4 separate regions of the Homo sapiens genome follow, and regions 1, 2 and 3 are each linked to region 4. Evidence: fine-mapped expression QTL. A gene starts in region 4. Each other region holds a variant in brackets. All regions are shown on one strand. Distances are from middle to middle.

The links. PIP is the estimated chance that this variant, and not a neighbour inherited with it, causes the effect.
Region 1: its variant is fine-mapped to the expression of ENO2 in whole blood (INTERVAL, PIP above 0.99).
Region 2: its variant is fine-mapped to the expression of ENO2 in whole blood (TOPMed, PIP above 0.99).
Region 3: its variant is fine-mapped to the expression of ENO2 in whole blood (TOPMed, PIP above 0.99).

What each region holds. Positions count from the first base shown.
Region 1 is chr12:6,871,834-6,879,833 of GRCh38, reverse strand. It overlaps SPSB2 (splA/ryanodine receptor domain and SOCS box containing 2), which reads left to right and starts at 6,531. Exons shown (of 3, transcript NM_032641.4): 1 at 6,531-6,588; 2 at 6,837-7,596. The coding sequence starts at 6,933. LOC105369632 (a long non-coding RNA gene) reads left to right here. Exons shown (of 4, transcript NR_135083.1): 3 at 2,234-2,335; 4 at 3,920-4,070. RefSeq lists silencers at 6,122-6,571, 7,752-7,871 and an enhancer at 6,962-7,201. The variant T/A (reference allele first, on the strand shown) is at 4,094.
Region 2 is chr12:6,931,207-6,939,206 of GRCh38, reverse strand. ATN1 (atrophin 1) reads right to left here. Exons shown (of 10, transcript NM_001940.4): 2 at 5,179-5,367; 3 at 4,894-5,031; 4 at 4,629-4,742; 5 at 1,646-3,660; 6 at 1,140-1,362; 7 at 30-726. The coding sequence starts at 5,205. Among named protein-coding and RNA genes, the nearest start is that of ATN1, 7.2 kb to the right of the region's middle. RefSeq lists a silencer at 1,609-1,678. The variant C/G (reference allele first, on the strand shown) is at 4,056.
Region 3 is chr12:6,855,601-6,863,600 of GRCh38, reverse strand. It overlaps USP5 (ubiquitin specific peptidase 5), which reads right to left. Exons shown (of 20, transcript NM_001098536.2): 3 at 7,780-7,846; 4 at 7,451-7,584; 5 at 7,151-7,296; 6 at 6,710-6,894; 7 at 5,878-5,972; 8 at 4,984-5,177; 9 at 4,060-4,131; 10 at 3,363-3,450; 11 at 3,110-3,235; 12 at 2,495-2,648; 13 at 1,984-2,158; 14 at 1,043-1,131; 15 at 224-415. Among named protein-coding and RNA genes, the nearest start is that of USP5, 7.5 kb to the right of the region's middle. The variant T/C (reference allele first, on the strand shown) is at 3,522.
Region 4 is chr12:6,909,997-6,917,996 of GRCh38, reverse strand. ENO2 (enolase 2) reads right to left here and starts at 3,417. Exons shown (of 12, transcript NM_001975.3): 1 at 3,338-3,417; 2 at 2,080-2,176; 3 at 1,485-1,580; 4 at 1,268-1,326; 5 at 890-959; 6 at 283-416; 7 at 1-57. The coding sequence starts at 2,164. It overlaps LRRC23 (leucine rich repeat containing 23), which reads right to left. Exons shown (of 8, transcript NM_001135217.2): 6 at 7,971-8,000; 7 at 4,970-5,267; 8 at 3,768-4,106. The coding sequence ends at 4,994. RefSeq lists enhancers at 1,785-2,424, 2,425-3,066, 3,745-3,914, 3,945-4,014 and silencers at 3,423-3,613, 3,145-3,634.

The DNA.
Region 1 (8,000 bases), 38 kb after region 4:
TGCCCGGCCAACAACCATGTTTTAAACAACCAGTAGCAGCAGCAGCAGCAGCATCAGCAGCACAGGCGTGATTAAATTCTCAAGCTGAGCTAGAGCTAGCCATGGGGCAGGCACTGTTCTCTGTCCCCAGGCCTTGGTTATCACATGGGTCCTTCACTACTATTCATCATAGGCTGCCACCCACAGTCATGATGTTATTTATTTTTTGAGACGGGGTCTCGCTCTGTCACCCAGGCTGGAGTGCAGTGGCCTGATCTTGGCTCACCGCAACCTCCAATTCTAGACTCAAGGGATTCTCTTGCCTCAGCCTCTTGAGTAGCTGGGATGGCAGGCGCAAGCCACCAAAGCCTGGCTAATTTTTTGTATTTTTTGTAGAGGCGGGGTTTCATCATGCTGCCCAGGCTGGTCTTCAACTTCTGATCTCAAATCGGCCCACCTTGGCCTCCCAAAGTGCTGGGATTACAGGTGTGAGCCACTGTGCCTGGTCTTACAGTCATGATGTTATTATTGATGTCACATACTGGCAAGCATATCCAGGTTGGGTGGATGACAAGTTTCAGGTTCATATCTTTATTTTAGTATGCTTTCTTCTTCTTTTTATTATTATTTTATTTTCATAGGTTATTGGGGAACAGGTGGTGTTTGGTTATATGAGTAAGTTCTTTCGTGGTGATTTGTGAGATTTTGGTGCACCCATCACCCAAGCAGTATACACTGAACGCTATTTATAGTCTTTTATCCCTCCACCTCTTCCCACCCTTTCCCCCTGAGTACCCAAGGTCCATTGTGTCATTCTTATGCCTCTGCATTCTCATGGCTTAGCTCCCACTTATGAGAACATATGATGTTTGGTTTTCCATTCCTGAGTTACTTCTTAGTGTGCTGCTTTCTTCTTCCTCTTTAAAACATTATAAAATATTTTGTACATCATTTTATATATATATATATATATATATATATATATATATATATATATATATATATATATACAGCCACATAGTGATTTTTACACAAACGAATATATGCTCACCTAACAGATGCAGTAACTGAGGGATTTTCTTTTTCTTTTTTTTTTTTTTTTTGAGATGGAGTTTCGCTCTTGTTGTCCAGGCTGGAGTGCAATGGCTCAATCTCAGCTCACCACAACCTCTGCCTCCCAGGTTCAAGCGATTCTCCTGCCTCAGCCTCCCGAGTAGCTGGGATTACAGGCATGTGCCACCATGCCTAGCTGATTTTTGTATTTTTAGTAGAGACGAGGTTTCTCCATGTTGGTCAGGCTGGCCTCAAACTCCCGACCTCAGGTGATCTGCCTGCCTCGGCCTTTCTTTTTTCTTTTTTCTTTTTTTCCTAGTTCTTGTGGTCCTCAATTATTTTTATTTTATTTTACTTTATTTTTTGAGACGGAGTCTTGCTCTGTCGCCAGGCTGGAGTGCAGTGGCAGGATCTTGGCTCACTGCAACCTCTGCCTTGCGGGTTCTTCTGCCTCAGCCTCCTGAGTAGCTGGGATTACAGGCACGATTCTCCTTCCTCAGCCTCCTGCGTAGCTGGGATTATAGGCACATGCCACCACGCCCAGCTAATTTTTGTATTTTTAGTAGAGACGGGGTTTCACCATGTTGGCCAGGCTGGTCTCGAACTCCTGACCTCAAGTGATCCACCTGCCTCGGCCTCCCAAAGTGCTGAGATTACAGGCATGAGCCACCATGCCCAGCCTATTTTATTTTTTTGTTTTGTTTTCTGAGATGGAGTATCACTCTGTCGCCCATGTTGGAGTGCAGTGGCGCCATCCTGACTCACTGCAACCTCCGCCTCCTGGGTTCAAACAATTCTCCTGCTGAGGGATTACAGGTGCACACCACCACGCCTGGCTAATTTTTTTTTTTTTGTATATTTAGTAGAGACGGGATTTCACCATGTTGGCCAGGCTGGTCTTGAACTCCTGACCTCAGGTGATCCACACGCCTCGGCCTCCCAAAGTGCTGGGATTACAGGCGTCAGCCACCGCGTCCGGCCTATTTTATTATTATTATTTGGTAGAGATGGGGTCTCACTAGTCTTCCAGGCTGGTCTCAAACTCCTGGGCTCAAGCTCCTGCTTCAGCCTCTCAAAGTGGTGGGATTACAGGAATGAGCCACTGCACCCAGCCTACTAAGGGATTTCCAAGGGTAACTTTAACTATGTGACATAATTGTAATTTACTTCTCCTCATTTTCTATTCCTTCAAAATGTAAAGCTTGTGACAGTCCAGCCCCTTCAGCCTGGAGTTCCACCTACCAGTCCCCACATGTGCTGTCTCTCACCAAGGTTGCCAGTGACCTCTGACCAAAACAATCTTGTAAGTAATCAAAACTGAATTTTCTACCTTGTTCTATTCTCCTTGACCCTTCTGTTGCTCCACACTCTCTTTGTCCCCATCGCCCATATTTCACTCACTCATTCTCATAGTTCAACTCCTGACTAAAGACTGACACACCTCCCAAATCCCTGTCTCCAGCCCAGGCCTCTCATTCTGCCTCCAGACCTGCCATTTTCTTGTGTGTTCTGGATGGTTCCATTTGCTTGTGGCTCAGACACCTCAAAAACATATCCTAAACTGAACTCACCATCTCCCTCTCCCACCCTCCTGCCCCTGCCCTCAATTACTCCTCTTTCTGTCATCTCCATCTTGATTGGTGGCACCACCTTCCAATCAATTTTTCCAGGCTAGAAACTTCCCTTTCTCTTTTTTTTTTTTTTTTTTTTTTGAGATGGAGTCTTGCTCTGTCGCCCAGGCTGGAGTGCGGTAGCGCCATCTCGGCTCACTGCAGCCTCCACCTCCCTGGTTCAAGCAATTCTCCTGCTTCACCCTCCGAAGTAGCTGGGATTACAGGTGCCCACCACCACACACAGCTAATTTTTGTATTTTTAGTAGAGACAGGGTTTCACCATGTTGGCCAGGCTGGTCTCAAACTCCCAACCTCAGGTGATCCGCCTGCCTCGGCCTCCCAAAGTGCTGGGATTACAGGCGTGAGCCACTGTGCCCAGCCTCAACTCCATATCTAATCAGTCACCAAATCTTGCCGTTTCATCAGTGTTTCTTGAATTATTTTCATCCTTATTTCTACTGTCCTATTTCAGGCTGTTGACACTTGTCACCTGGGCTGCTGGAAATGGTGTCTTTGCTTCCAGTCCTTTTTTTTTTTTTTTTTTGAGACAGAGTTTCACTCTTGTTGCCCAGGCTGGAGTGCAATGGCGTGATCTCGGCTCACCGCAACCTCCACCTCCCAGGTTCAAGCAATTCTCCTGCCTCAACCTCCTGAGTAGCTGGGATTACAGGCATGCTCCACCATGCCCGGCTAATTTTGTATTTTTAGTAGAGACAGGGTTTCTCCATGTTGGCCAGGCTGGTCTCGAACTCCAAACCTCAGGTGATTCGCCCATCTCAGCCTTCCAAAGTGCTGGGATTACAGGTGTGAGCCATCGCGCCCAGCCAACTTCCAGTTCTATTTCCCTTGAAGCTCCTCTATGTTGCTGCCAGGGTGGTTTTTCTAAAATGCAGATCTGGCCAGGCACAGTGGCTCACGCCTGTAATCCCAGTACTTTGGGATGCTGAGGCAGGAGGATCGCTTGACTCAGGAGTTCGAGACCAGCCTGGGCAACAGACTGAGACTCTGTCTCTATTTTAAAAATTAAGAAATAATAATTTGTAAATTAAAAAAATAAAAATAAATTAGCTCGGCATGGCGGTATGCACCTGTAGTCCCAGCTACTCAGGAGGCTGAGGTAGGAGGATCAGCGGAGCTCAGGAGGTTGTGGCTGCCATGAGTCGTGATCACGCTACTCCACTCCAGCCTGGGTGACAAAGTGAGACCCTGGCTCAAAATATATAAATAAATCAAATGCCTATCTGACCATGTTCCTCTCTTCTTCTATCCTACAGTGGCTCCCCATCACTGGCCTGTCCTATGGGAAAACATTTGCATTCCTTAACTCAGCCTAGAAGGCCTCTGTGACTTGCTGTCTACTTATCTGGCCCTTCTCATGCTTCCTTTCTGGCTGTAGCAACCTTGAAGATATCGTACTTCCCCAAACCCACCTGCTGCTTCTTGCTTTT[T/A]TTCATGCGGACTCTTCTGTCTGGAATATCTTCTACATGCAGCAACCGTAACCCAACCTCCATACTGCAGAGAAGTGGCTCGTCTCAGGCCAATTCCTGGTCATCCTTTTAGATTCAGCCCAGGCTGGGCGCGGTGGCTCATGCCGGTAACCCCAGCACTTTGGGAGGCCGAGGCGGGCAGATCACGAGGTCAGGAGTTCGAGGCCAGCCTGGGCAACATAGTGAAACCCTGTCTCTACTAAAAATACAAAAATTAGCCAGGCATGGTGGTGCACGCTTGTAGTCCCAGCTACTTGGGAGGCTGAGGCAGGAGAATCACTTGACCCCAGGAGGCAGAGGTGAGCTGAGATCACGCCACTGCACTCCAGCCTAGGCATCAGAGCTTAGACTCCGTCTCAAAAAAAAAAAGAGAAAGATTCAGCCCAGTGTGAAGGTGTGAACCTCTTCTAGGACATGAAAAGATTCAGCCCAGGTGTGAACCTCTTTTGGAGATGCTCCTTTCCTAACTGCTTGAACCCCGGATAGGAGTCCTATTCTTTTTACTCCTATAGTACTTTCTTTATATCTCCATAATTTTATTTACTATTACTACATGATACATTATTTTATAAAAGTCTTTGTAACCTCCTTAAGGATTCACTGCTTAATCTCCAGTGCTTAGCACAAATCATTAAATGCGAACCAGAAACTCTTCCAAATGTGTTACATCTATAACCTCATTGGATTCTCACTACCAACCCCATGCAATAGATACTAATGTGATCTCTGTCTTACAGAGGAAGAAACAGGCACAGGGAGGTTCAGTAATTTGCCCAAGGTCATACACACACTGGCCTTCAGGTATTCATGCCCGGGGAGTCTGGTCCCACAGCTGGCATGTTTGCCATTATATTATATTGCCTCCTTATAGTGTCGGCACTCATTAAGCACATTGACAGCTATGCTTGGTGAGTGACTACTATGTACCCAGCTCTGTGCTACATGCTTTACCTGGATTATTTCAACTGCACAACAACCCTGTGAGGTAACTACCATCATTGCTCCTATTTTACATAACAGAAAACTACAGAAATCTGGGGCTGGGCGTAGTGGCTCATGCCTGAAATCCCAGCACTTTGGGAGACCCTGTCTCTAAAAAAAATTTTTTTTTGGCCGGACGTGGTGGCTCACACCTGTAATCTCAGCACTTTGGGAGGCTAAGGCAGGCAGATCACAAGGTCAGGAGTTCTAGACCAGCCTGGCCAACATGGCAAAACCCTGTGTCTACTAAAAATACAAAAAATAGCTAGGCGTGGTGGCAGGTGCCTGTAATCCCAGCTACTCAGGAGGCTGAGGCAGGAGAATCCCCTGAACCTGGGAGATGGAGGTTACAGAGAGCCGAGATCGTGCCGCTGCACTCCAGCCTGGGCAACAAGAGCAAGACTCTGTCTCGAAAAAAATAAAAATAAAAATAAAAATATTTTTTTAAAAATTAGCTGGGTGTGGTAGCACATGCCTGTAGTCCCAGCTACTTGGGAGGCTGAGGTAGGAGGATCACTTGAGCCCAGGAGGTCAAGGCTGCAGTGGGCTGTGATGGCGCCACTGCACTCTAGCCTTGGTGACAGCAAGACCCTGTCTCAAAAAAAAAAAAAAGAGAAATCGGGCAACTTCCCCAAGATCGCGCAGTTAACTAGTGGCATAGCTTCACTCAAACTCGAAGTCTTAATCAGGACACTCTACCAAATGAGATCAACGGCTCAGTAATGGATTGGCATCCAGTATGAAGACTGGACCAGCAGGGAGAACTATGATGCGTACAGCCTAGAGCCTGAAGCAGATTTCACAGCCTCAGAGGTGGCACAGGCTGACTCACAACCCGGGGCAGAAAGGGACCAGCCCAGAAACAGTGACCCAGAATCACAGGGAAGTAGAAATGGGATTCGGCACAATGAAGCCCCTCCTTGACCCCATGCTCCTTACCCTCAGGGGCGCAGGAGTTAGTCGCTCAGGCGGCTCAAAGGTCTTGACGGTGGAGAACACCATCCCCAGGGATTCCCGACGCGGTGATGCCATCAAAGCGTTAATTCTGAGATGGGCCTGCCCGGGTGCGGACTCTGCCGCAGCAAGAGAAGGGTTAACTGCCCCGGGCCTTCGCCGTGGGGGCGGGGCCTCGGGGAGGGTCACAGCCCGGGACTGAGACCCGAGGTTAACCGCCCGGGGTGGGCTCCACGGGGGCGGGGCATGCTCTCCGCGGCTGCTGCCGGTATAGAGCGGTAACTGCCCAGGAGGGGGCGGGGCCCCACAGGGGCGTGGCCTCGGAGCTGCACGGCCGTGGGCGGCGATGAGAGGGTTAAGCCCCAGAGGGCCCTGGAGGGGCGGGGCCGCGGGACGGGCTCGGCCCAAGGGAGGAGCTGGGGGCGGAAGCGGCCGGCGGTCTGCGCCCTGCGCGCCTCGGCTTCTTTCCGCCCGGCTCCTTCAGAGGCCCGGCGACCTCCAGGGCTGGGAAGTCAACCGAGGTTCGGGGGCAGCGGCGAGGGCTCCGGGCGAGTAAGGGGGATGGTCCATGCTGAGGCCCAAATGGGGCGAACTCGCGAGAGTCTCTGGCGACCTGGATCAGATGGGGCGAGGGCAGATGAAGGGCCCAGGAGCTTTGGGGCAGCGAGGAGGGAGGAGCGGGCCCGTTGGCAAACTTGGGTGAAAGGATGGGGTACCTGGGTGACGAGCCCCCGCCAGGATTCTGCTCTTCACGCCCCTTTTCTCCCAGCTCCCTTCCAGGTCAATCCAAACTGGAGCTCAACTTTCAGAAGAGAAAGACGCCCCAGCAAGCCTCTTTCGGGGAGTCCTCTAGCTCCTCACCTCCATGGGCCAGACAGCTCTGGCAGGGGGCAGCAGCAGCACCCCCACGCCACAGGCCCTGTACCCTGACCTCTCCTGTCCCGAGGGCTTGGAAGAGCTGCTGTCTGCACCCCCTCCTGACCTGGGGGCCCAGCGGCGCCACGGTTGGAACCCCAAAGACTGTTCAGAGAACATCGAGGTCAAGGAAGGAGGGTTGTACTTTGAGCGGCGGCCCGTGGCCCAGAGCACTGATGGGGCCCGGGGTAAGAGGGGCTATTCAAGGGGCCTGCACGCCTGGGAGATCAGCTGGCCCCTAGAGCAGAGGGGCACGCATGCCGTGGTGGGCGTGGCCACGGCCCTCGCCCCGCTGCAGACTGACCACTACGCGGCGCTGCTGGGCAGCAACAGCGAGTCGTGGGGCTGGGACATCGGGCGGGGGAAGCTGTACCATCAGAGCAAGGGGCCCGGAGCCCCCCAGTATCCAGCGGGAACTCAGGGTGAGCAGCTGGAGGTGCCAGAGAGACTGCTGGTGGTTCTGGACATGGAGGAGGGAACTCTGGGCTACGCTATTGGGGGCACCTACCTGGGGCCAGCATTCCGCGGACTGAAGGGCAGGACCCTCTATCCGGCAGTAAGCGCTGTCTGGGGCCAGTGCCAGGTCCGCATCCGCTACCTGGGCGAAAGGAGAGGTGAGGCCTGGGGCAGACGTGGGGAGAACTTTCTGTCCCTGGTGGCAGTGGTTTGGGATGGAAACTCTTCTGACAAGAGCAGAGGGGATGGACCTTCATCCAGCCTGCCTCAACCTCTGTTCAGTGCTGGGAAAGGCTAGGGGTCTTCACAGCTGTTATTTAATTTAACCCAACAGCAATAGAGGTGAAACAGGCTTGAGAAAGCAACTTTCTCAAGTTCTCTTGGCCAGTAAATGGTGAACCTTCAGAATGGAGGGAGGAACTGCAGGGATGAGAGAATTCAGGAGATATCAACCCCTGAGCAAGAGGTGCAAAGCGTTAGGTACTGGGTTTGATGTACAGGTCCAAAAGAAGGATGGGCAGAGCCAGGTACCCAGGCTGTATACCGGATTCCCTGGGCTCTA
Region 2 (8,000 bases), 21 kb before region 4:
GGGCCAGGGCAAGGAAGGAGGGGTCTCACCTGCATGGATAGCATCTTGCTGGTGCAGGTGCAGGTGCGAGTGGATGTGGGAGTGCTGGTGGTGATGGGGAGTCACATTGAGCATCTGCAGCCGGGCCAGTGGGTCATTGCCCAGGGCCGCCACCCTTTCTGCGTGCTGCCTCTCAGCTGCCAGCCGCTCAGCATAGGACATGTCAGGCCGCAGGGCTGGCCCAGCTGCCAGCGCTAGACGTTCTCGCTCCAGGGGCCCCAGGCTCGGATGAAAGGGGAAAGGGTGCAGGCCAGGTGGGCCAGGCTGCAGAGCCAGGCCCCCATGTCGGGGAAAGGGATCCAAGCCCGGCCCAGGGACCCCATGTAGGGGTTCCAGCTCACTAGGCTTCACCTCAAAGCCAGGCTTGAGGCGGTCACGGAGGTCTCGTTCACGGGCTTCCCGTTCCCTCTCCCGGGCAGCTGGATCACTGCTGTACAGGGCCGGGACATTGTAACCCAGGAGCCCCGGGTCCACTGCCCCCAGGGGCACGTAGAATGGATGGTTGCGATTGCCAGGAGACATGACATGAGGCCGGGCATATTCACTGAGAGTGCGCAAGGCTGGAGTGTCAGGACCCAGGTAGGGGGGCACTGTAGCCACCGCACTGCCCGGTTCAAATGGAGGGCGATGGGGCACTGGGCCCAGAGATGGGCATTCCACCGGAGCACGGCCCTCCTGAGCCAACTTCTGTGGGATACAGGGAAAAGTGGAGTCAAAGCGGCAGTTATGAAAAGAGGTGGCTGGTTTTAAGCTGCCCATTTGTTTCGACAGCCGAATGCCAAAATGCCTCAACTCATTGAAACTCTGCCCACCTGGAACTTAACTGCGGCCCCCGCTCCCGAATATTTGCCCTTCTTGGGATCCACAGGTAGTCCCATCTGAGCATGCCTTTTCCCAACCCAGGAATGCAGATGGCTCTCGCTGAAAACCTTTTGGGCTCCATTTCCTGGGCTGCAGTGGTACCTCCCCTCCGACAGGTGGCGACGTGACTCGCCCGCCCACCCAGCCACAGCCCCGCAGCGTAGCGTAGCGCAGCGCAGCGCAGAGGGAAGGAAGGAAAGAGGGAAAGAAGGCGGTGGCGCAGGCAGTGACGCACTCACCACGCTGCGTTCAAGCTCGCGCTCCTTCTCGCGCTCGCGCTCTTTCTCGCGTTCCCGCTCGCGCTCGCGCTCCTTTTCTTCGCGCGCGCGCTGCTCGGCCTCGCGCCGCACCTTCTCCACCAGGTCGGCCCGCTTCTTGGCCAGCTTGGAGCCCTCCAGTGGCACGAAGTACAGGTCGCTGCGCGCGCACGAGTTGAAGCCGCGATCCAGGTGTTTGTTGAACCTGCCGGGCGTGGAAGCAGCGGGCGCTCAGGCGGTGCGAGCTGCCCGATGGAGCCCGCAGCGCCGCGGCCCCGGCGAGTGCTTGTAGCCCCCGCCTCAAAACCACCCCTGCAGGCTGTGAGCTGCTGCGGGCCTCACTGGCCACTAGGCCTGGACGGAGGAGAGGGGCGTGCTTTTCTAAAACACTACACCAGCGCAAGGCCCCTCCCTGCTACTCCCTCTCTCGTCGCCGCCTTGTCGTCGTCCCCTTTCCAGGCCCACCTCCGCCCCACCTGGCCGCTCACCTGGCAGACTGACTGGCATGGCTGGGTACATCTACCACCTTGGGAGGGGGCGAGGGGCTGCGGGCTGGGGGCACCGGGCTCTCGGGGGTCTCATACTCCTCAGCCGGCTCCTGTTTGATCTGCGTGGCGCTCAGGGGCGGCCCTGAGGCAGGGGCCGCAGGTGGTGGTGGCAGCGATGGCAGGCCTGAGGGCCCCGCAGGTGGCAGGGGCCCAGGTCCCACGGTGGGCGAGCCCGGCTTGAAGGTCCCTGGGCCTGCAGGTGGCGAGGTTCCTCGATAGCCCGGTGGGGTCCCCGTTCGGAAGGAGGGAGGCGACCCGGGTTTGTATCCGGGTGGGGTGGCTGTCTTGTAGGCCCCCGGGGACGGGGCTCTCTTTCCGTACGGTGGGGGCCCAGGTGGGGAGGCCGTTTTGTAGCCTGCTGGCGAGGAAGCCACGGTGGCAATGACCGTGGAAAGGGTAGCCGAAGAGGTGGTGACCGTAGGCACCGGTGGGAAAGGGTAGGGCGCCCCTTGAGGGCCCTGGGAAGGGGAGGGGTGTGAACATGGGTAGGACCCTTGAGAAGTGGAAGAGGAAGAGTTGGAAGAGGAAGAGACTGGAGGGCCATTGGGGCCTGCTTGGCTGTAGGACACCTGGCTGTGAGGTGGGGGCAGGTGTGCTGGCCCTGGTGGGTAGGGCCTCAGAGACCCCAGGGAGGGAGACATGGCGTAAGGGTGTGCGTGGTGGGAGCTACCGCCCTCCAGTGGGTGGGGAAATGCTCCAGGAGGAGGGGGCCCAGAGTTTCCGTGATGCTGCTGCTGCTGCTGCTGCTGCTGCTGCTGCTGCTGCTGCTGCTGTTGCTGTTGCTGGTGGTGATGGTGATGTGTTGAGACTGGTGGGTGGGCGGTGGACTGGGCCCCAGTAGAGGGAGGGAAGGGGCCTGGATGGGCATTGCTGTTGGCTAAGAGGCGGCCATAGGGAGGAGGTGGTGGGGGACCCTGGCTCCACACAGCCTGGGATGGGAGAGAAGGCTGAGTATACTTGGGGGGCTGATTGGAGACAGAGAGGCTTGTTGGGGGAGGGAAAGAGTGGGGGTAGCTGGGCAATGCCTGGGAAGCTGGGAAGGGGGAGGCAGAGGAAGAGGAGGAAGAACTGGAAGAGGAGGCTGCTGCAGAGCTACTACTAGAGGATGAATAAGGAAACCTCATGGGGGGCGCTGGAGCAGAAGAGGAAGCAGGAGGCAGAGAGTGGGGTGAAGGAGCCAGAGTTGGGCCCTTCTCTGGGCCAGGAGGAAGTCCACCCATACCCTGTCCCATGGCGTGGGGAGAGGGCAGATGACCAGGTAGTGGTTGGGCCCCCAGGCCAGGGGGAGAGGCTGATGCATTGTTGAGGGGTCTCAGGGCAGGTGGGGGAGGCAGGTTCGGTGTCACATGGGGGAAGTTGGCTGGTGGTGGAGCAGAAGGTAGGTTCCCACCACCCACTGGAGTGGTAGGCGGCTTTGTTGGGGGAGCACCACTAGCCCCAGAGCTTGATACTGAAATGGGAGTAGTGGGTGGGGGGTGCTGCTTACCCCCATTAGGGCCCCCCACTGATGAGGCAGCCCCTCCCCCCTTGGGACCCATTGGGGGTCCAGACAAAACTCCACCAGTGCCCCCAGGATAGAGCTGTGGGTGAGGGGGAGGGGCCCCAGGAGGAGCCTGGAACATTCGAGATGTGGGGGGCTCCATGGGAGCATGATATCCAGTGGGTGTCACAGAAGGATGGGGTTCAAAGCTAGCCTCTGGCTGTCGAGGGGTGCTGTCTGGCGGTTGAGGGGAAGGAGGAAAGAGTGGAGGTGGGTGGTAGGGGCGGGCTGGGCCCTGGGACAGGCCAGAAGATGAGTCAGAGTCATTCTCCACACTTCCAGGGCTGTAGATACTGGGGGACGTGCTTCGGTTGTCCTGGTCGATATCCCTAGGGTCGCTGCTGCCATCATCATTAAGGCTCCGCCCGTCCAAGCTATCCAGATCGGAGGGAGACTGTGGCCGAGGGAGTTCCTGCTGTAGAAAAGGGAAGACTCATTTTTTCTCTTTTCCTTTCCTGCTTCCCTGAGATTTGGGGCTCTCTTGCATAAAATCATTTCCCCTCACAGCACACTGTTGTACTGTGATGTGGTGAGTACTCTTGCTCAAGCCCACCTCTTACCATCTGGGGATTTCTCACTTTCCTCACATTCTTGGCTGCTCCCTAGCAGCCAGTCTTGTTTCCCGCCTGTAAAACCCTATTCCTTCCTCAAGGATCCATCTCAAGCACCTTGTCTCTACCCACAGCTGACTCCAACTCCCTGTCTTCCACCATCTCATAACCACCACTTTAACCATCCTCCATCCCCCAAGCCCTTGGTTTTTATACCACTTCTGGCCGGGCACAGAGGCTTACACCTGTAATCCCAGCA[C/G]TTTGGGAAGCTGAAGCGGGCGGATCACTTGATGCCAGGAGTTCCAAACCAGCCTGGCCAACATGGTGAAACACTGTCTCTACCAAAAATACAAAAATTAGCCGGGCATGGTGGCTCATGCCTATAATCCCAGCCACTCGGGAGGCTGAGGCACAATTGTTTGAACCCAGGAGGCGGAGGTTGCAATGAGCTGAGATTGTGCCACTGTACTCCAGCCTGGGTGACAGAGCGAAACTGTCTCAAAAACAAACAAACAAAAAAAAACAATAAAAAAGAAAGACCACTTCTGCATTTTCCTTAAGATTTATTTGTTCCTCCGACTAAGACTTCTCACCCAGAGACTAGAATCCCCCAACTCTTCTGGTCCCCTTTGGCCCTGCCTGGTCATCTGGTGGTCTGTCAAAGCTCTAAGAATCTCTCTGGCATATTATAGACAGAACTGCTCTCATAAGCACTATGATCTGGCCTTTCTCTTATGTCCCAGGAGAGATCCAGCTAAGAATAGTGAGCATAAGCAAGTCTGAGAAAAGAATGGTCACAAGATGGGTCAGGATGGCGACAAGGGTTTCCCACCTCAGTTTTGGTCTTTTTTGGTGCATTGGTCTCCTCACTTTCACTCTCTGAGATCTCCTCACTCCGACCCTGCTTGTTGACCTTTGGGGTGGAGGCTTCCTCTACTCGGGCCTTCTGTTAGAGAGAAAGAGAAAATTCCTGTCTTTTCCCTACCTCCCGAGCTCCACCGTTACCCTCTGCCAAACAGGAAGTTCCCCCACAACACACACACACCCTCAGCCCCAGTGCCTTGGGCATCCTGTGGGAGGACCTGAGGACAGAATACCTTGGCTGTCTGCCTGGACTTCTCAGCTTTGCCATCACTGCTGGACGTGCTGACCCCTCCAGGGGAGGCCCGGCCCCTCGATCTCAGTTCTTCCCGGGGCCCAGGGGCCTCTTTCTTCCGTCCACTCCTCATTGACATCTACAGGAGGAGGAAGGAGGTAGGTAACACTGTTCTTTACATTGCACCTAACTTTATGGTGCACATTATTTGTTCTTCTTCTCTAGACCCTTCCTCCTAGCTTGCCTGCCCCGCCCCTCATCTTTCATGTCTCTCATTTTAACTCACCGAGTCTTTATTCTGTCGTGTCTTCATTCTTCAGGCTGTGGAGACCCCATTCTCCTCTGCCTGGGCAGCTGAATACAGAAACTTCTCTGCTCCACCCCAAGTTCCCCACAGCTGTGGTCTGGGAAGCAGGATCTCCAAGTTTCCAGTGTGGGCACCTGGAACTTTTGCAGGATCTGTTTTCAATGAAACCTGTTAGAAGGAAACCATCAGAGTCTCCAACTTGGAGAACAGAGTCACAAAGGAATACTATTCTGCTTGTCAGAGAACTGAGCAAGCGGCCCAACCCTAAGCCTTTGGGCCAAGAGGTACAGATACCACAAGACATTGCTGGCATGCCCCATGGGCTACCTTAGCTATCTAAAAGGGAGGCAGATTCTGCTCGAAGTATAATCTCTTTCATCTCTGTAGAGGGCAGAAAATTCGGATGTACCTACAAGCCCCAATCCAGGAGATCACACAGTTTACCCTTCATGATCCCTAAAGGATATTTGTGAACACACACATTCCACGGAGCCTTACAAAGGAACATAAAGAAATGGAGCGGGGCATGGTGGCTCATGTCTATAATTCCAGCACTTTGGGAGGCCTAGGTGGATGGACCACAAGGTCAGGAGTTCAAGACCAGCCTAGCCAACATGGTGAAACCCAGCCAGGCGTGGTGGCACGTGCCTGTAATCCCAGCTACTCAGGAGGCTGAGGCAAGCAAATCACTTGAACCTGGGAGGCAGAGGTTGCAGTGAGCCGAGATCATGCCACTGCACTCCAGCCTGGGTGACAGAGTAAGACTCTGTCTCAAAAAAAAAAAAAGAAAAAAGAAATGACATTGAAGTATGAATTTATTGAATACCTTCTTTATATCAAGCCCTTCACATACATGATTTCATTTAATATTTACAACCAACCCTGAATGGTAAGCATTATTACCCTCATTATATAGGTGAGGGAACTGAGGCTCAAAGATTGTGATTGTGACTAGCCCAACCTCACACAGTGAGGAACCAGTGACAGAGCCAGAATCAAACCCATGTCGGTGACTTCAAAGCCCATGCTCTTTCTTCTATACTTTGCTGTATTCTCCTCAGAAGTTGCTGGGGAGAATTCTCAGAAGGCCTAGATCAGTCACAGAGATATGAAAAGAATCTTTTCTCACATCAGAGTAGGTAGAAGAAGAATGTCCCATTCTATAATACAAAGGAACACAGCCCTACCAATCCCAAGACTAAACCTAGGTAGCCCCAAATTGTAGAACTTCATTTTTGAGAGCCCCATAAAGGACCCATTCTCTAGTACTTGAGCTCCCTAAGGCTAGAGGAAAAGTCAGGGTTTTCACATGAATGATTAAAGACTCAAAATATCCGTGAGCAAACAACACAGATGTACCAGTTTTTAAGCCTATCCTCCTACTTGGTGTAGACTGGGTTACACAGTTTCTCACAGCCAATCCATCCGTATCTGTCTATCAGCAGGTATCTATCTTTATCCAAATCCCTATAGCCAGCTGTATTCATTTGCACTTGTTTGTATTTCTTGCTAAGTGTCAAGTCCCTCCAAATTACTGATTGTAAGATCTTTTGAGAGCAAAAATGGTATTTTCTTACTGTTTTCTTCCTTTCCACTGATGTGTGTGCGCTCTTCTTGTGATTGACCTTTAAACCCACTAACATCAGTAGGTCTTTCTTCCTGAATTAAGTGCTGCTAGCTCCAGTGGGAACAGACTAAGCTTACCCATGTATTCTATTCTGAGTTGGAGGCCTGCTAGGTAAACGGCATGTCCATATTCTGTAGTGTATTTTTTCCCAAGAAACACAGTAATTCTCACTCACCTCCACGGAACCATACTGATGCAGGCAGTAAGGGGTGAGTCTAACCTTTCCAGGAAACTTCACAATTTACTTAGAATCACAAAATTGCTGGGACAGAGCCTATCTTCTGAACTTTCAACTGATGCTCTGCCCAGTAGACTTGTCTTTTTTTTTTTTTTTTTTTTTTTTTTTGAGACAGAGTTTCACTCTTGTTGCCCAGGCTGGAGTGCAGTGGCGTGATCTCACTCACTGCAACCTCTGCCTCCCAGGTTCAAGCGATTCTCCTGCCTCAGCCTCCTGAATAGCTGGGATTACAGGCATGCACCACCACACCCGGCTAATTTTTTGTATTTTTAGTAGAGACAGGGTTTCACCATGTTAGTCAGGGTGGTCTCGAACTACTGACCTCAGGTGATCTGCCTGCCTCGGCCTTCCCAAGTGCTGGGATTACAGGCGTGAGCCACTGTGCCCGGCCAACTAGTTTTCTTTTTTTTTCCTTTTTTTTTTTTTTGAGATGGATCTTTGCTCTTGTTCCCCAGGCTGGAGGTGCTATGGCATGATCTCAGCTCACTGCCACCTCCGCCTCCCAGGTTCAAGCGATTCTCCTGCCTCAGCCTCCCAAGTAGCTGGGATTACAAGCGCACACCACCACACCTGGCTAATTTTTGTATTTTTAGTAGAGACGGAGTTTCACCATGTTGACCAGGCTGGTCTCGAACTCCTGACCTCAGATGATCCACCTGCCTCAGCCTCCTAAAGTGTTGGGATTACAGGCGTGAGCCACCATGCCCGGCCTTTTTTTTTTTTTTTTTTTTTTCAACTACAGCTATTTTCCCACATTTTTTAGTTGTTATGTAGACTGGTTTTAAAATACTATCAACCAAAAAAAAAAAAAAATCCGAAGAACAACACCCACCATAGCAAAAGAGGAAAACAATCTTAAACAAAAAGCACAACAAAGATGACTATTTGTGATTGGTGTATTTTTGCCAGCCCTCCTAGAGAAGGGTGTCCATCTCC
Region 3 (8,000 bases), 54 kb after region 4:
CCAGGGAGGTAACAAGGGCAGAGAGGCCACTAGCTGGCACTGCTGCCATCCACACCCAGAAGGTGGCTAGGAGTGCGCTGGGGAGGCCCCATGTCAATCAAAGAGGGCAGAGGAAATTTGAAAGGGAGGACAGGAGAAACACAAAGGACAGGGGCAGGGGATGCAAGGCAGAGAGGCCCCCATCAGCACGGGAGAGAGACAGGCAGGAAGAAGAGTCACTAACATGTCGGAGAGGAGAAGTGAGGGGAGCAGAAGGAGTCTTCGTCTTCGTTGCCATAGAAACCAAGGCTACCTTTGGGCTCATCCGGAGTGACCAGGGGTGGGGCAATGTCTGGCAGCTCCTCCTCTCCGGGCTGCAGCCCTGTGCCCCTCAACTGGGAGATGTCGAGCTCCTCTGGCATCTCGATGGACACATCTGTGGGAAAAGGGTCACCTCAGCAGCTCCCGGAGGCCTACCTGGAAAGTGATTCGGGAACCTCAATCCCCTGCCCCCTATGTCAGAACTGCTCTGTAAAGAGGAGCTGCTAAAAGCACGGCACCCATCTTAGGGGTCCCAGTATAAGACAAATAATACTAAGCCTGGGAGTTGGGAGGCCAGGATGCTGGTCCTAGATCTACCATAAATAATCTATGGACAGGGCAGGGGGCCTAGAACTTGTGAGACAGAATGATTTTATATTCCTGTGAGTCTCAACTTCCTTATCTAGAAAATGAAGGTACATCACGAGTTCTCAAATGACAGTCAGGGACCTGTAAGACTCACGAGAATTAATTGTTTCAAGATTATCAAAATGAAAACATTTTACCAATTATTTTAAAAAACTACAAAAATCACTTTTGGTTGTAAATCATACCTATAACAATCAAAGAAGTCTTTTAATATTTTTAGTTAGTGCTTTCAAACTAGATAAATTTTGAAACATTGAAGGTGATTTTTTTTCCTCTTTCAGAGGAAACTTTGAGAAACACTAGTTTATATGTGTTAAAGCCCCTTCTTTTTCTAGCATTTTCTGTGTAACCTCCCTCATTCCAGCAGCCATACCCAGTTTCTTGGGCACCCAGTCTAAGCCGAAGGTGAACTTCTTGATCTGGATGACCAGGTAGTCAGGGAATGAGGCAAATCGTGTGGTCCTAGGGAAGAGAGACTGTGCTGGTACCCAGACAATCCCCAGGGTTTTCCTCTCCTGAAACTCCCACCTGGGGTTCAGCCCCTCATGGGTAGAAGTCCCAATAACCCAGAAGATCCTCCATATTCTTCTCTTCCCCTGGGCAGGTGTCTGATGCCTGTCCTCGGCCAACGAGGAGCAGTAGAGGCCAGAAGGAAGGCTGTCAACAAAAAAAAGAAAAAGAAAAAAGCCCAGGCATGGTGGCTCATATCTGTAATTCCAGCACTTTGGGAGGCCAAGGCAGGACGACTGCTTGAGCCCAGGAGTTAAGAGACCAACCTGGGCAACATAGCAAGACCCACACGTAGGGAAAAAAACATAGCAAGACCCACACATAGAAAAAAAAAAAAAACCCACACAGAGAGGAAGAGCTGTTTCACTGGCAGGAGCAGCAAAGGGCTGGGTAGCTGACTCCCCGAGACCAAAGCCCTTTTTCAGGTCTCACACCCATGCCAGGTGCCAATGGCTAGGCTCAAAGTGTGGCTATTTGCTGGAAATCCAAATTCTGCCCACAGCTGATCCTAAGTGCCTGTGCTCAGCCATGACTGAGGGGCAATGAAGAGAGGCTACACTACAAAGAGACCCTGTGCCACAGAAGAGGGAGTGGTTGGGGCAGGACAAGGTGACAGATAGAGTCAGTACCCGTGTCCCCCCTACCAGGGCCCCTTGGTTCCATCAGGGCCAGATTACCAGCCCAACTGATTCAACCCTGAGGTTCCAACCACAAAGGGATGAAAGAACAGGGAAGAGACAGAAGTATCCTCTGGGATAGCTCTGCCATAGACCCACAGCCTCAGGCCCCGACCAGAGGACTTACTTGACAGCTACTGACTTGGCCTGCAGGGCCGTGCTCCAGAAGTCATCGACCTGCTCAGGGGCCCCGTAGGCCTCCAGGCAAGAGCTGAAGGGCACCTGGGCCCGAACCAGTTCTGGCAGTGCCATCTTCTCCTCTTCGGCTTGCCGCTTCTTCTCCTCGTACTCCAGAAGCTCCTCTGGTGACAGAATGGGTTGGTGGATCCTTCGGAGGGTGCTGCTTCTTTGCCTCCTTAGCCTCTCCCTACTGGCTCTGTGTCCGTATTTCAGTTCCTCTACCCTTCCAAAGCACCCCTGACACATGTCCAATATATCTCGCCTGTTTCCATGCAGCTCTGCTAACAAGCTGAGTGTCCACTGGACGAGGTTAATCTACCTACTCCTGGTGGCCCAGACTGGAACCTTGGCTGGTGAAGCAGGGCATTCCCTGGGCTGTGCTCCCATGAGGTGCCCAAGCATTCCTCCTAGACCTTAGCCTCCCACCGTGCCACGGCCTTGCTGATGGAGCAGCCTACCTTTGTTAAGGGCTGCATCCATGGGCACAGGCAGCTGCATGATGTAGTCAACTCGCTGGGTGTACTTCACCTTCTCTGTGGCCAGGCACTTGATCTTTTCCTCCACCAAGAAGCGGAACACTTCATTAGGATTTTCAGAGCTCCGGCAATTCCTCTATGGGAAAGAGGCAGGGTAGGGAGGTCTGGGCAGCCAGGGAACAGAATGGGGCCTGAAAGGTTCATGGGAGAGTCAGGGAGAGAAGGCAGACTACCACTCGGAACTCAGGGACACAAGAGCAGAGCAGAAACCTTCCCTAATTCACCAACCCCTCCCCATTTCTGGCCCCATCCCTGCACTGAGGGACTGTGTTAGAACACGCTTGTATTTTTCTTTATAAGCAGCAAGTATTCTCTTATCATTGTCTTTGGGCATAATCTGAATTGGGCTTCAAGCCCATCAAGGGTAGGGATCATCACCTTCACTGTCCTCCTCAGGTGCAAGCACTGTTCACAGGGACACAGACTGTTGGGGTTCAGGGATGGGACTGGGTTGGGGCTGATAGAGGGAGAAATGGGCAGGAAGGAGAGCGAGTAAATTGCAGGAAGATGGGGGTGTGCCATCTTGCCAGCCCTTACCTCCACCATGTTGATAAGGTGAAGGAAGAACTCCTGGGCATCCTGCTGCCGGTTGGTGGAGAATTCAGGGTGGCCCTTGCCGATGAGGGCCTTGAACATCCGAGGGGCAATGCCATCTTGAACTTCCTGGGAAGAGTCAGGGCAGGGACTCAGCTGGGGCTCAGTGGCCATCCAGGGGCCTTCTTTAGACATCTCCCAGACCTCAGCTTCCCCACAATCCCAGGGCCTGAAAGGGACAGGGTCCTAGACGCACCTTCTGTTCTGGCACCCGCTCCCCATCGCCCGACTCCGGTACTGGCTTGGAATACTCCCCGGAGAGAAGGCCATGGCCCAGCTTGGCCCTGCATTAATATCCAAGAAAACATTTCACTTCAGTCAACTAACGACCCTGTGTGTCCCCAGCTCAACCCCC[T/C]GCTCGTGGCTCTCCCTAGCTAACTCTCAACAACGTGAAAAACCTTAGATTCTACAGGAACCCAGCTCAAGACAGACAACACGTCCAGAAGACAGTCACCCGAATGCTCCTAATAGGCCAGTGGTGGCCGTGCACGGTGGCTCACGCCTGTAATCCCAGCACTTTGGGAGGCCGAGGTGGGCAGACCACGAGGTCAGGAGATCGAGACCATCCTGGCCAACATGATGAAACCCCGTCTCTACTAAAAATACAAAAAAAATTTAGCTGGGCGTGGTGGCATGTGCCTGTAGTCCTAGCTACTCAGGAGACTGAGGCAGGAGAATCACTTGAACCCAGGAGGCAGAGGTTGTAGTGAGCCGAGATCGCGCCACTGCACTCCAGCCTGGCAACAGAACAAGACTCCGTCTCAAAAAACAAAACAAAACAAAACAAAAAAAGGCCAGGGGTTAAAGTGCTGTGCCCCCCAGGCGGTCAGGGAGGAGGAAGGTATACGGCCATGACTGTCAACAGCTTTCCTACATAGGACCTGGTTACATACACCTGGGTGCTGAAATCCTGGGTAGGGTCCGTCGGGGCATTCTGGAAGATCTTCTCCAGCTTATCCACATACCTAAAAGTCAAGGGAAGGACAGTTGGAGGGGCTCTGGCCTGAGCGCCGAGGAAAAGGGAAGGAAGCAAACATTTACTAACTCTGTGAACGGGCTCCCCTCAAGAGTGGGGAGTTGCTGTGGGTGAACCTTGGAGTCGCTTCTCTCCAGCAACCTGCCTGTTCTCCCCTTCTCAGCTATGTCCAATGTGCAAGCACGCTCGGCGGCAGAGGAGCCGGGGAGGGGGAAGGTAGCCTGGGATTAGGATAAGTGCAGTTCACGTTCTATTGGACAGAACCTGTTGACATGTTCTGAGCATTCACATTCTAATTGTTCCCCAAATTCGAAAGTAAACTCATTTCTGCTGAGAACCTGCCTTTATTCTTAGTGTGCCAAGCCCCCCTCCTCCCCAAGTGCTACATGTCCATGTTAGGTGCTCATCTGATGTCACTGCCCTAAAATAAAGACCACCTGCTAACCCTTGAGTCTGTCAGAAGGCCACAGAGCCCTGGGACTTGGCACTCTGCACTATCAGTGGGGTTTGTGTGTTGGGGTGCTGGTGGTGCAGCTCCCTAACTTGCTCCCCTCACAGCATGTCAGCCAGAGTGTGACAGGAATTATTCTTTTTTTTTTTTAAGAGAAGACAGGGTCTCGCTATGTTGCCCAGGCTGGTCTCAACCTCCTGGGCTCAAGCAATTCTCCCATCTTGGCCTCCCGAAGTACTGGGATTACGGGTGTGGGCCAACACACCCAGCCGATAGGAACTACTCTAAGACTAGAATCAAACACAGAGGTGCTGAGGGAAGCTGAAGGAGGAGTATGCCCAGAGGGTGCTGACCAGGAGGGGGCCTGGGGAAGGAGAGGGCACTACTCACTTCCTCTGGAAGTCAGGGATGCTGAAGAGCACCTGGACCACAGAGTTGAGGTAGCAGCTGTTACCCAGGTTCCGGATGCCTGTGTAGCCAGGCCCAAACAGGGGCTTGAGTGGCACACCTGACTCCTGGATCAGCTCCCATTCACCAATCCGCTGGTTCATGTCTATCTCCAACTCAGTCATCGTCTTGTCTGTCTGTGTGAGAAGGGGCACTTCAGACTGAGTGAGAAACTCAACCCTGTAGTTTTTACCTCGATCTCTCACTGAGTCTAGGATGATACTCAACTGTGGCCTAGAATTTGTGGAATTACAGGCTCAAACATGGGAGGTATGTTGAGTATCGTCCAGTTCAAGTTCTGGAAGGCCACACATAATTGTCCCAGAGGCCCGTTAGTCATCAGGGCCTCTGCTTGAATGAGGAATAAAATTTCCTTCTACCTGAAATGTTTTTCCCATCCTTAAGTTACCCCTAACCTCCTTCACATTGTCAGTTAAGCATCGCTTCCTCAGGGAAATGTCCCTGATCCCTAAACTAGGCCAGGCCACCCTGCTGTCAATTACTGTAGTACCCTCCGCCTCTCTTTCACAGTGCCCACCAGTTTGCAACTATTCACTTATTTATCTGGGAATGTGACTAATGTCTGCCTTTTCTTCTAGAGTAGAACTCTTGTAAGCAAAAACCACATCTGTCTTATTCACACAGCCTCTAGCACATAGTAGGTACTCAGTACTATTCACTGAATAAATGATTTTAGATATTTAAAAGAAGCCTGTGTATCTTGGGGATGGGGTTAACTAGAAGATTTCTCCAAAACCCTACCTCAGCCTCAGGCAAAGAGGAAGGGCCCTCACAGGGGCAGGAAGTAGAAGAATCTGAAGTTGAAGGGGGTCTCACCTTCTGCATCTTCAGCATGTCGATGCCGAAGTGGGACAGGTGCTCAGCCAGGCTGGGGTCCAGGACCATGTCATCCTCATCATATGAGTACACGTCTAGAGCAGGAGGCAGGAAGAGAATCAGGGGAAGTGGCTCAGGACTAGCCAGGCCACCATCCCATCCCTTGCACAGAAGGGACTTGAGGGGACAGAAGGAGAGCCAGTAAGGTCCACCCTCTTGGTTCCCTTGAATATGAGTAATATGAGTGCGGTCATGGCCCTTCTGGGGCTGACGGTCAGGGAAGACAGATGAAACCGGGTGAGGGTTGGAATTACTTGTGATTCTGATTCTACCTGTATAGGATAAGGTAAGACAGGCTTGGTAGGAAAGGGATGAGGATTTGAGTGGGGAGTAATCAAAAATTTAGTCTCATCTGCAGTATTTTCCTTTTTTGAGACAGGGTCTCTGTAGCCCAGGCTGGAGTCCAGTGGTGCAATCATAGCTCACTGCAGCCTCAACCTCCCGGGTGCTCAAACAATCCTCCTGCCTCAGCCTCCTGAGTAGGTGAGACTACAGGCAGGAGCTACCACACCCAGCCAATTTTTCTTTTTTTTTCTTTTTTGGAGAGATGAGGTCTCACTATGTTGCCCAGGCTGGTCTCGAACTCCTAGGCTCAAGCAATTCTCCTGCCTTGGCCTCCCAAAGTGTTGGGATTGCAAACATGAGCCACCGCACCTGACTACTTTCCTTTCTTATCAAGATAATGCATTCATGTATTATACATGTCACACGAAATTACTAACAAATGAAATATATTTAAGCATGAGAGTGGCTGGAGGAGGGGAGGCTGTACCAGCTCCATCAGGGGTGATGGTGCCCAGCTTGACAGCTAACGGGTAGCCTGTCTCTCGGTAGTGCTCCACAGCGTGGTTGTTGCCCCCACTGCCATCGAAGTAGCGTCGCCCACAGAGGATGGAGCCATCAGTCAGGTTGAGCCACAGGTTCTCTCTCATGTCACACTTGGAGCACTTCCAGCCACTAACCCACAGAGAAGAGAATCAGCAGAAATGTGGGTCGGGGATTTGAGGGAGTGGCAGAGAGAGAGGGCTCTGCAGGCCCCCCGCCAATCCAAGGTCTCTCTCTCTTCTCCTCTGGCCATCCCCATGTCGTGTTCATTTCCAAGCTTCCCTTCCTGTCCTGCTCCCTACCCTCTCTCCCACCAGATCCCCCAGAAAAGTGGGCTCCTTGTCCTTGCTCTGGGGGTGGTGCCCGAGGCAGAGGGGCCAGGCCTCACCAGGGAGGGATTCGAGCAGGGTTGTCCAACTGCTTGAGGCTGAAGGCATGCTTAGACACCTGCCGTACTTCCCCATCCCATGCCTGCACCTCCTGCTTGCGGGAGGCTGAGTCGGCCGACAGTAGGGCCTCCACTGCACTGGTCACCTGGGGGAAGCAGAGGGTCAGAGGCAATACCCAACCCCCTGCCCCACATGCCCCTCTTCCCCTTGGCCTTCAGCTTTGTCAGTGCTTGCCTAAGACACCACTACCCTGGCCCATCTTGCTCTAGAATCTTGGGTAGCATAGGGGGCAGTCATACCCGATCTCTGACAATGTCAGGCAGTCCCCCCAGTCCATCCCGGGCAATCTCCAGGTAATCTGGCAAAATGACAATCTTCACATCCTCGTCTAATTCAAACTTCTCCTCGCTAAGGTCAAATCCGCCTTCAACACCTGGAAGGATAGGGAAGAAGAGGGAGAGTAGAGCAATGACAACAGGTCAATGTCCCTCCTCCGAGCCAGCACCTCACTTGCCCCATCCAGAGTTCTAGGGCCATCAATCAGGCCCACTCTTTGGGGCTTTCCTGGTGCTGCTGAGAGCCAGAAAGACCAGCTCAGGGAGAAGAATAGGACTGCAGCGGTGCTCACCAATAGCCAGCCGCGTGGGCTTCTTCCGGGGTGGGTCTCCAGTGCCTGTAGCAGGGTCCTCCTCTTTCTGTAAAGAAGCAGGAAGGGCTGGATCAGCAATGAGCACGAGCGAAGGAACAAGTCGGGAGGAGGGACGGAAGGAGGTAGTGCTTCATCTCAGAACGGAATAAAGCTAAAAAACATCTGTGCCAAGCTTTAATGACACAAAAGTAGGTGAAAAA
Region 4 (8,000 bases):
CTCCTGCATGGCCAGCTTGTTGCCAGCATGAGAGCCACCATTGATCACGTTGAAGGCCTGGGGAGCCACAGAAAGACAGAAGGGTCAAAGAGCCCCTCCCTGCCCGCCCCAGGAGTGTTAACCCAAGATCCCAAACTTCCCCCAGCTTTCCGGACTAAGTCTCACGTCCCCATCCTTCCTCTTTACCTCCCTCAATTCACTTTCCTCCCATCATTCCTCATGAGTTGCATGCTCCCTCCCCCACCCGCCCCTGGGAGAGCCGCAGGCTGGCTTATTGCTCACCGGCACAGGCAGGATGAGGTCTGAGTTCCCGGCCAGCTGAGCAATGTGGCGATACAGGGGCAGTTCCCGCTCAGCTGCCCCTGCCTTACACACGGCCAGAGACACACCCAGGATGGCATTGGCCCCAAACTTGGCTAGGAGATTATAGAGGAAGGTGCTGAGCACAATGTCCCCTTCTCCTTTCTAGCTCCTGCCTCCATCTGTAGTCTCCAAAAGGAGCCAGTAAAGGAGACCCCCTCCTCCCTCCCCACCCCTGCCCCAGCAACACCTCATCCATGCTCTCTTGAAAACAGCAGGGAGAGGAATGGGTGGGGAGGAGGAGATTGGAAACGGCAGAGAGCCACACCTCTTTCTAAATATCCCTGAGACCACAGACTCTCTCAGGCCATCCCCCTCCTCTGTATGCTGCAAAGAAGGTCTTCCTTCTGCCTACTGTCGGTCCTTCCCTCTGCAGCTAAACTCATCTCCCCTTGCTCTGGCTTTGAGAGGAGAATGCCCCTGACAGTCATTCCTGAGGAAGCCACTACAGCACTGGCCCTTCAGCTCTCTATCTGCTCCACGCCTCCCCACCCTGACGCTTCCCCACTTTCTCCCGGCCCCGGCTCACATTTGTTCTCAGTCCCATCCAACTCCAGCATCAGGTTGTCCAGTTTCTCTTGCTCCACCACAGAGAGACCCTGAGGGCAGAGCCTCCATCACCCAGGGCCAGGCTGGAGGCTGAGCCCTAAGGCAGAGGGTCCCCTCATTCACACCCAAGCTCACATTTGGCCAGGGTCCAACCAGGTCCCTGTGACAGGGGCCTACCTGGATTAGGGGACCTGAACTCCCATGGGAGCAGGGTGCATTAAGGAAGCTGTTCCCCACCCTTCCCCCTTGTAACCATGATTCCTAAGAGTGGGCCTTCTTTCTTCCCTTCCTCCTGCCCTGCTCCGGGATTCCTTCCAGAACTCTGGCCCTGCTATCCCCAGCAAAGAGCAGGCCTCACTGAGCTGATGAGGGCTGGCGCGATGGTGGAGTTGATGTGGTCCACTGCCTTCAGGACACCTGGGGAAAGGAAGAGGCTGGACTGGGTCGGGCCAGGAGGGGCCGGAAGGGATCAATGGGAGGAGGGGAAGCCATGCTAGAGGAGGACTGGGGACTGGTGTGAGGTAGGGGCATAAGGCTGAGGTGGGGGAGAGTCTGGAAAAGAGAAGGGACCTCACCTTTGCCTAAGTAACGCTGTTTGTCTCCATCCCTCAGCTCCAGGGCCTCATAGATGCCCGTAGAGGCTCCACTGGGCACTGCAGCCCGGAAAAGACCTAAAGGAGGAACATGGAATGAGAGGGAGTGAAGAGGACACAGGGGCCAGGGAGTCCTTCAGCCTTCTGGCTCTAAACTGCCTGCCTACCACATCTAGCTCTCTCCCCACACTGCTCCCTAACATCCCCCCACCCCCACCCCACACACACACTGAGGCAGATGCACAAGAAGTGGCCTCCTCATCCACCCATCTGAGGCCCCACATGCACAAGTGGGAGCCCGCAGAAAGAAAATTGCTTGCAGCACACGTCTGCACACATGCAAGTGCACAGGCAGACACACGGAGGCAGGACATGCCTCACACGCTAAACTCGAACACAGACCCACCTACCCTGGCTCCCCGGACAAGGAGGATCCAACCGCCACAACCCAGGCTTGTGAGCCTGGCCCAGCACCCCATACCCCTGGGTATCAAAAAAGGCCTCCGAACCCCTGGCCGAACCCAGCCTGGCCGTGGAAAAGCTAGGGCTGTAGGAAGGCCCATGCCACACCCATTACCTTTGGCAGTATAGAGATCCACCTCCACTGTGGGGTTCCCGCGGGAGTCCAGGATCTCCCGGGCCCAGATCTTCTCTATGGACATGATGGCTGGGATCTCCTCGGGTGGAAGGGAAGGAAGGAGAAAGATAAGAGGCTTAGAGGGGTGGAGCCTGAGATCAATGGGCGGGGCGGGAGGCTGGGAGGGATGGGAAAGAGGTTACTGCAGTGGGTGGGGGGTGGGTAGGGAGGCGCTGGCTGCAGTCTAGGGCTGTAGAAGGGATTCCCCCTCCCCCCTGGGAAGAGGAGAAGGTCAATGCAGTGAGGAAGGGGAGGTCACTGCAGTGGGGGGCGGGGTAAGATCAAATGATGAGATGGGAGAACACTGCAGTGAGGAGGGGAGGGGCACGACAGTGGTTCCCGCGCCTCTTTGCAGCTTGGCCAGCCGGTGGGGTTCCCCCAGATCTCCTCAGAGCGGAATGGCTGCCAGGCTTGCATTTCTCCTGGGAGCCAAGAAGAGGATGGGCTGCCTGGGCCTCTCTTCCAGAGCCCCCATACCTCCCCAACTTAACACCCCAGCTGCCTGAACACTGCCCCTTCCCCAAGGTCCCACTCTCTCCCAAACGTGTATCCCTCCTCTTCCCGCGAAAGGCGCATGCAATACAGGTGTCGGGGAAGAGGGTCCTGAGAAAGGCCCTGCAGTCCCTGGGGGTTGCAGCGGGAAGTGAAGAGGATAAGAGCCGGTGGGGAGTGGAGGCGAGCTGGGCCTGTCCTCCCCTCTGCGCCTCGACAGATCCCCACTTCTTCCATCTCTCCCCCGTGCAGCAGAGGGGAGGAAGCGCGAACGGAGAGGGGCGCCGTGGGGAAGAGCAGGAGAGAGGGGAGTCCAAGGGAAGTCTGGGGGAGGTGAGGAACGGTGAGAGAAGACATTTCCCCAAATGCAAACCAAAAGGGACGCTCTAGGATAAAAATGCACCGCCCGGAGAGGCTCCCAACTTAGAAACAAATAGAACCGTAGATGAGGGCGAGCACCGGGAGAGAGGCAGGCAAGGGTGGAGAGGCGCAGTTAGAGATAGGCGCGCAGAGGGCCAGAAAGCGAAGGCAGCGGGCGGGGAAGGCCAGGGAGGGAAGGCGCCCTGGGCGCGGGCGGCGGAGCAGGTGCGCAGCTGCACCGGGCCAGAGATGCGGAGAGGTGCGCAGCGGCACCGGGTAAAGGAGGCAGGGGCGCCGCGGCGAAGGGAGGGGGCCACAGGGGCTCTGGGCCTGGCGGGGGCTTCACCTCGGGACTGCAGACTCAGACGGTGGTAGTGGCGGTGGCGGTGGCGGTGGCGACGGCGGCGCTGAGAGAGCGGGAGTGGCAGTGGCGGCGGCGGCTGCGGCTCCCGGGCGGCGGGCGGAGGAGGCGCCTATAGGGCCGCGCGGGCGCATGTGACCCGGAGCCCCCGATGAGTCAGGAGCTGCCGGCGGAGGCGCACGTACGAGCGCGGGTGGGGGACCGACGAGGGTGGAGTGGGGAAGGGAGGAGGATGGGGGAAGGGTGGGGGCACCCACGACCTGGCCCCAGCGCACACAAGCGCTCATACCCACGGCCCGACCCACTCGACAGTAACAGGCAGAGCCGCACCCCTGTAGCCCGGGTACGAAGGCCCACACTGCCAGTGAAGCCCAAGACAGCCTCAATGTCTCACAAACCCGGTCAGACACAGGAGCATCACTCTGTTTCTTTATTGGAAATCCGAACACCCCAGCCGCCTTCGCAAGTCTCTCCAACCACTCCTACCAGCACCCCGCGGCCCACGCGGTCTTGGCTCTCACCCACGCCTGCCCGAGGGCGGCCCCCGGCCTAGGCTCCAGGCAACGCTCAGGCCTAGGCACCCCATTCTGCACCCCACACTGCCCAGAGGACCGGCACAGAGCAGATCCTGGGCCTCAGGTTGTGATGAATTTCCAGCTTTGGGGCAAAAACAGGCATCCTCTGTTCTCTGTCATACATGTGGTGGCTGCCCCTGGGAGTCTGATCAGGTCTGAAGGCCAGCGTCTTTGATCTCCTGGAGGTAGAAGACAGAAGTAAATAGGGACCAGGCGCTGTGGCTCACCCCTGTAATCCCAGCACTTTGGAAGGCGGAGGCGGGCAGATCACGAGGTCAGGAGATCCAGACCATCCTGGCTAACGTGGTGAAACCCCGTTTCTACTAAAAATACAAAAATTAGCCAGGCGCGGTTGCATGCGCCTGTAGTCCCAGCTACTCGGGAGGCTGAGGCAGGAGAATTGCTTGAACCCAGGAGGTGGAAGTTGCAGTGAGCTGAGATTGTGCCACTGCACTCCAGCCTGGAGACTAAGCAAGACTACCTCGCAAAAAAAAAAAAAAAAAAAAAAAAAAAACAAACAGAGGTAAATAAAGCCTCTCCCCTATCTAAAGTGCCTGGCGGCCACCCTCATCTCTTCAGTCTCTTTTTGCCTCACTCTGCCCTCTTTTCTTCCCCCATCTCTGTGTCCTGTTTTTAGCTTCAGATTTTTTGTGCTGGATCTTCCTCTCCTGCTTCTCTCCTAGGTCCAGCTGCATACACCACCAACTTTCCCCTGCAGCCCCTACCATGCACCCACACCTGTCCTTTCCTAGCCGACTTCACTCTGTGTCAGGTATGGCTGCCCCACCCCCCACCAACTCCTCTGCCTGCCACCCCAATTCTTTTCACTTACTCTTCTGGCCTCCTAAGTCTTTCTCAGCTGGTCCCAGGCCCCTTGGGTCCCTTTTCCTCTCCCTGACTCCTAACCCTCCTCTCTTTAAGGGTCCTGCTTGTCTGATGCTTTCCTCTCCCACCTCCTTCTGCAGCAGCTTCCCCTCTTGCCTCTTCCCCTACCTGCCCAGCCCTTGGCCTCCTCCCACTGCCTCCCTGCAGGCTTCCTTACTATCTTTAGAGGCTAGAACTGCTGCTAGATCAATGACTGTTCGGGTTCCAGGTCACGCTGGGGCTCAGGCTCCTGCTCCTTTTCTTCCTTCAGCCTCTGTCGAATCACATCAGCCTCAGCCCGTTCCTCCTCCTCATAGAATTCCTTGTCCAGGCGTTCAAGGTATGGCATCTGCACCAGGGCCTCCTGGCGGTAGCTGGTTTCGTCCGTGCATGGGTTATCAAGCAGCACCAACGCTCGCAGCTTGGGCAGGTCTCGAAGCTTGGCCAGCTCCCCCAGGTTGGCCACCATGTTGCCCCTGCCAGTGTGGTCAGGAGGGGTTCATGCAGGAATAATGGGCTTTGGTTGCCAGTTGCTAGGAATGGGGCCTCTGGGGGACTCTCGGGGTTCCAGTGTCCCTAGAAACACTGTGAGGACTGGCCTGCCAAGCCTTGCCAGATTTACTGCAGAGGTGCTGTGTGACCCCGCTCTGGTCCTGCTTCTGCCCTTCAAGGAATCCCTAAGTGCCATATTCTACTCTGTAATACATTCATGTGTTCTTTTGGTGCAGCAAAGCTAGGCCACAACCCTGTCTTGTAGCTGGGGAGGAGAGGGCAAATTTTCCTCACAGGGAGAGACATTTTCTGTGATCACACCTAAATGGAGGGTAGAAGGTAGGACCCAGCCTGGGCAACATAGCGAGACCCCATCTGTACAAAAGCTAAAAATAAAAAAATTAGCTGGGCGTGATGGCATACACCTGTAGTCCTTGCTACTTAGCTGAGGAGGAGGGATTGCTTGACCCCAGGAGTTTGAGATTACAGTGAGCCGAGATCGAGCCACTGCACTCCACCCTGTAGGACCTAGGTCAGTGGACAAGGAACTGGGATCTAAGCTGGAGTTTAGGGTGGTGGATGCTCGGTTCGTGCTCTCCACAAAGAGAACCTAAGGCTATGGATGGGTTGGAGCCTCCCAACCTGAAGAATAAACTTCATCTCCTAATGTGCCTCATTATATGATACTCTGTTTTTATTTTATTTTTATTGAGACAGGGTCTCACTATGTCACCCCGGTTGGGGGTGCAGTGGCATGATCATAGCTCACTGCAGCCTTGAATTCCTGGGCTCAAGTGATCCTCTCACCTTAGCTTCCTAAGTACCTCCAGGCATGTGCCACCACACCTGGCTAATGTTTAAATTTTTTGTAGAGACTGGGTCTCACTATGTTGCCCAGGTTTGTCTTGAACGCCTGGCCTCAAGCAGTCCTCTTGCCTTGGCCCCCCCAAAGTGCTGGGATTACAGGCGTGAGCCACCATGCCTGGAATTTTATTTATTTTCATGTTCTGGCTTTAAGCTTTTATGAAATCTATTTAAGTGTTTCAGCCTGATCTCATGGTCGTGCTGAGCCTCATGCAGTGTTTCTCACCAGGAGGGCTACAGGAACTTTGTACTGGACTCTGCCATACATTGTTGGATGCTTAGCATCTCTGGCCCCAGAGGCACCTGCCAATCATTGAGACACCCTCACCCCCCTCCACACACACACCCGACTTACTCTCAAAACATCCCCATTTAATAGCCACTCAGGAAGGGTCCATCATGCCTGTCTAGATCATTAACAGGAAGATGGCACAGATACACACCCCACCAGATCCGTGTGGCAGAGTTCATGAATAAGAGAATGCCCAGGGGGTCAGGATGAGAGTTGGGGCTTCCAGATGCAACCACCTCTCCCTACTTGGAGATGCTCTTTCCATTACCAGCTCAAGAATCTGGTCTTGTTGACTAAGGAAAGAGGCAGTTTCCTTACATGTTTGCTGAAATAAACACACATAAAGTCCTCCATCCGACAAGAGTTGCTGATCTTCAGTGCCTTTCTACCAAAAGATTTTCTTACAAATGTCCTTCTCTCCTCAAATCTGAGCACATCTTGTGTTTTTTTAATCAGTAAAAAGGTCATCCCTTACAGGTGGGGCTCAGGAGAAGAGAGGCAGGAAATGGGAAGGTGAATTGGGACCGAGGAAATGGAGAAGGGCAGTGGAAACTTATATAGGATAGGGTGAGGAAAAAAGAGTTGGAGCCAGACTGTGAGCCCCTTAGGAACAGGAATCACCTCTGATTCCTTTCTTTCTTTTAGAGACAGCTCACTCTGTCACCCAGGCTGGAGTGCAGTGGCACAATCATGGCTCACTGCAACCTTGAACTCCTGGGCTCAAGTGATCCTCCAACCTCAGCCTCCTGAGTAGCTGAAACCACAGGTGTGCACCACCAGGCTCAGTTAATTTTTATTTTTAATTTAATATTTTAATTTTTATTTAATATTTTATTTTTGTTTTGTTTTTGAGGCAGGGTCTGGCTCTGTCACCCAGGCTGGAGTGCAGCGGCTTTATCTCAGCTCACTGCAAACTCCACCTCGAGGCTCCAGCGATCCTCCCGCCTAAGTCTCCTGAGTAGCTGGGATTACAGGTGCCTGTCACCATGCCTGGCTAATTTTTGTATTTTTGGTAGAGATGGGATTTTGCCATGTTGCCCAGACTGGTCTTGAACTCCTAGGCTCCAACGATCTGCCCACTTCGGCTTCCCAAAGTGCTAGAACTACAGGTGTGAGCCACCATGCCGGGCCATTATTTTCACTTCTGTAGAAACATGGTCTCACTAGGTTGCCCAGGCTGGTCCTGAACTCCTGGCCTCAAGTGATCCTTCCTCCTAAAGTGCTGGGAGTACAGGCATGAACCACCATGCCCAGCCTCTGATTGCTTTAAATGTCCCCAAAACACAGCACAAGGCCTGGCACATAGCACATTCTCAATAATTGTGGATTGAATGAATAAAAATTCAGGGGTCACAAGCTATAAGGGATTTAGTGTTGCAACTCAGTGCAGAAGAAAGGAAGGAAAGCCGGGCTTTCCTTGAGAATCCAGCTGTGGGCTAGGACTGGGGGATTGGGCCAGGGAAGAACACAGACTCAAAAGCTGCACCTGGTCAGGGGTAGGGGCAAGGTGGGGCTTGGAGAGGGTGCATACCTCAGGTTGAGGTACTGCAATGATTTCATT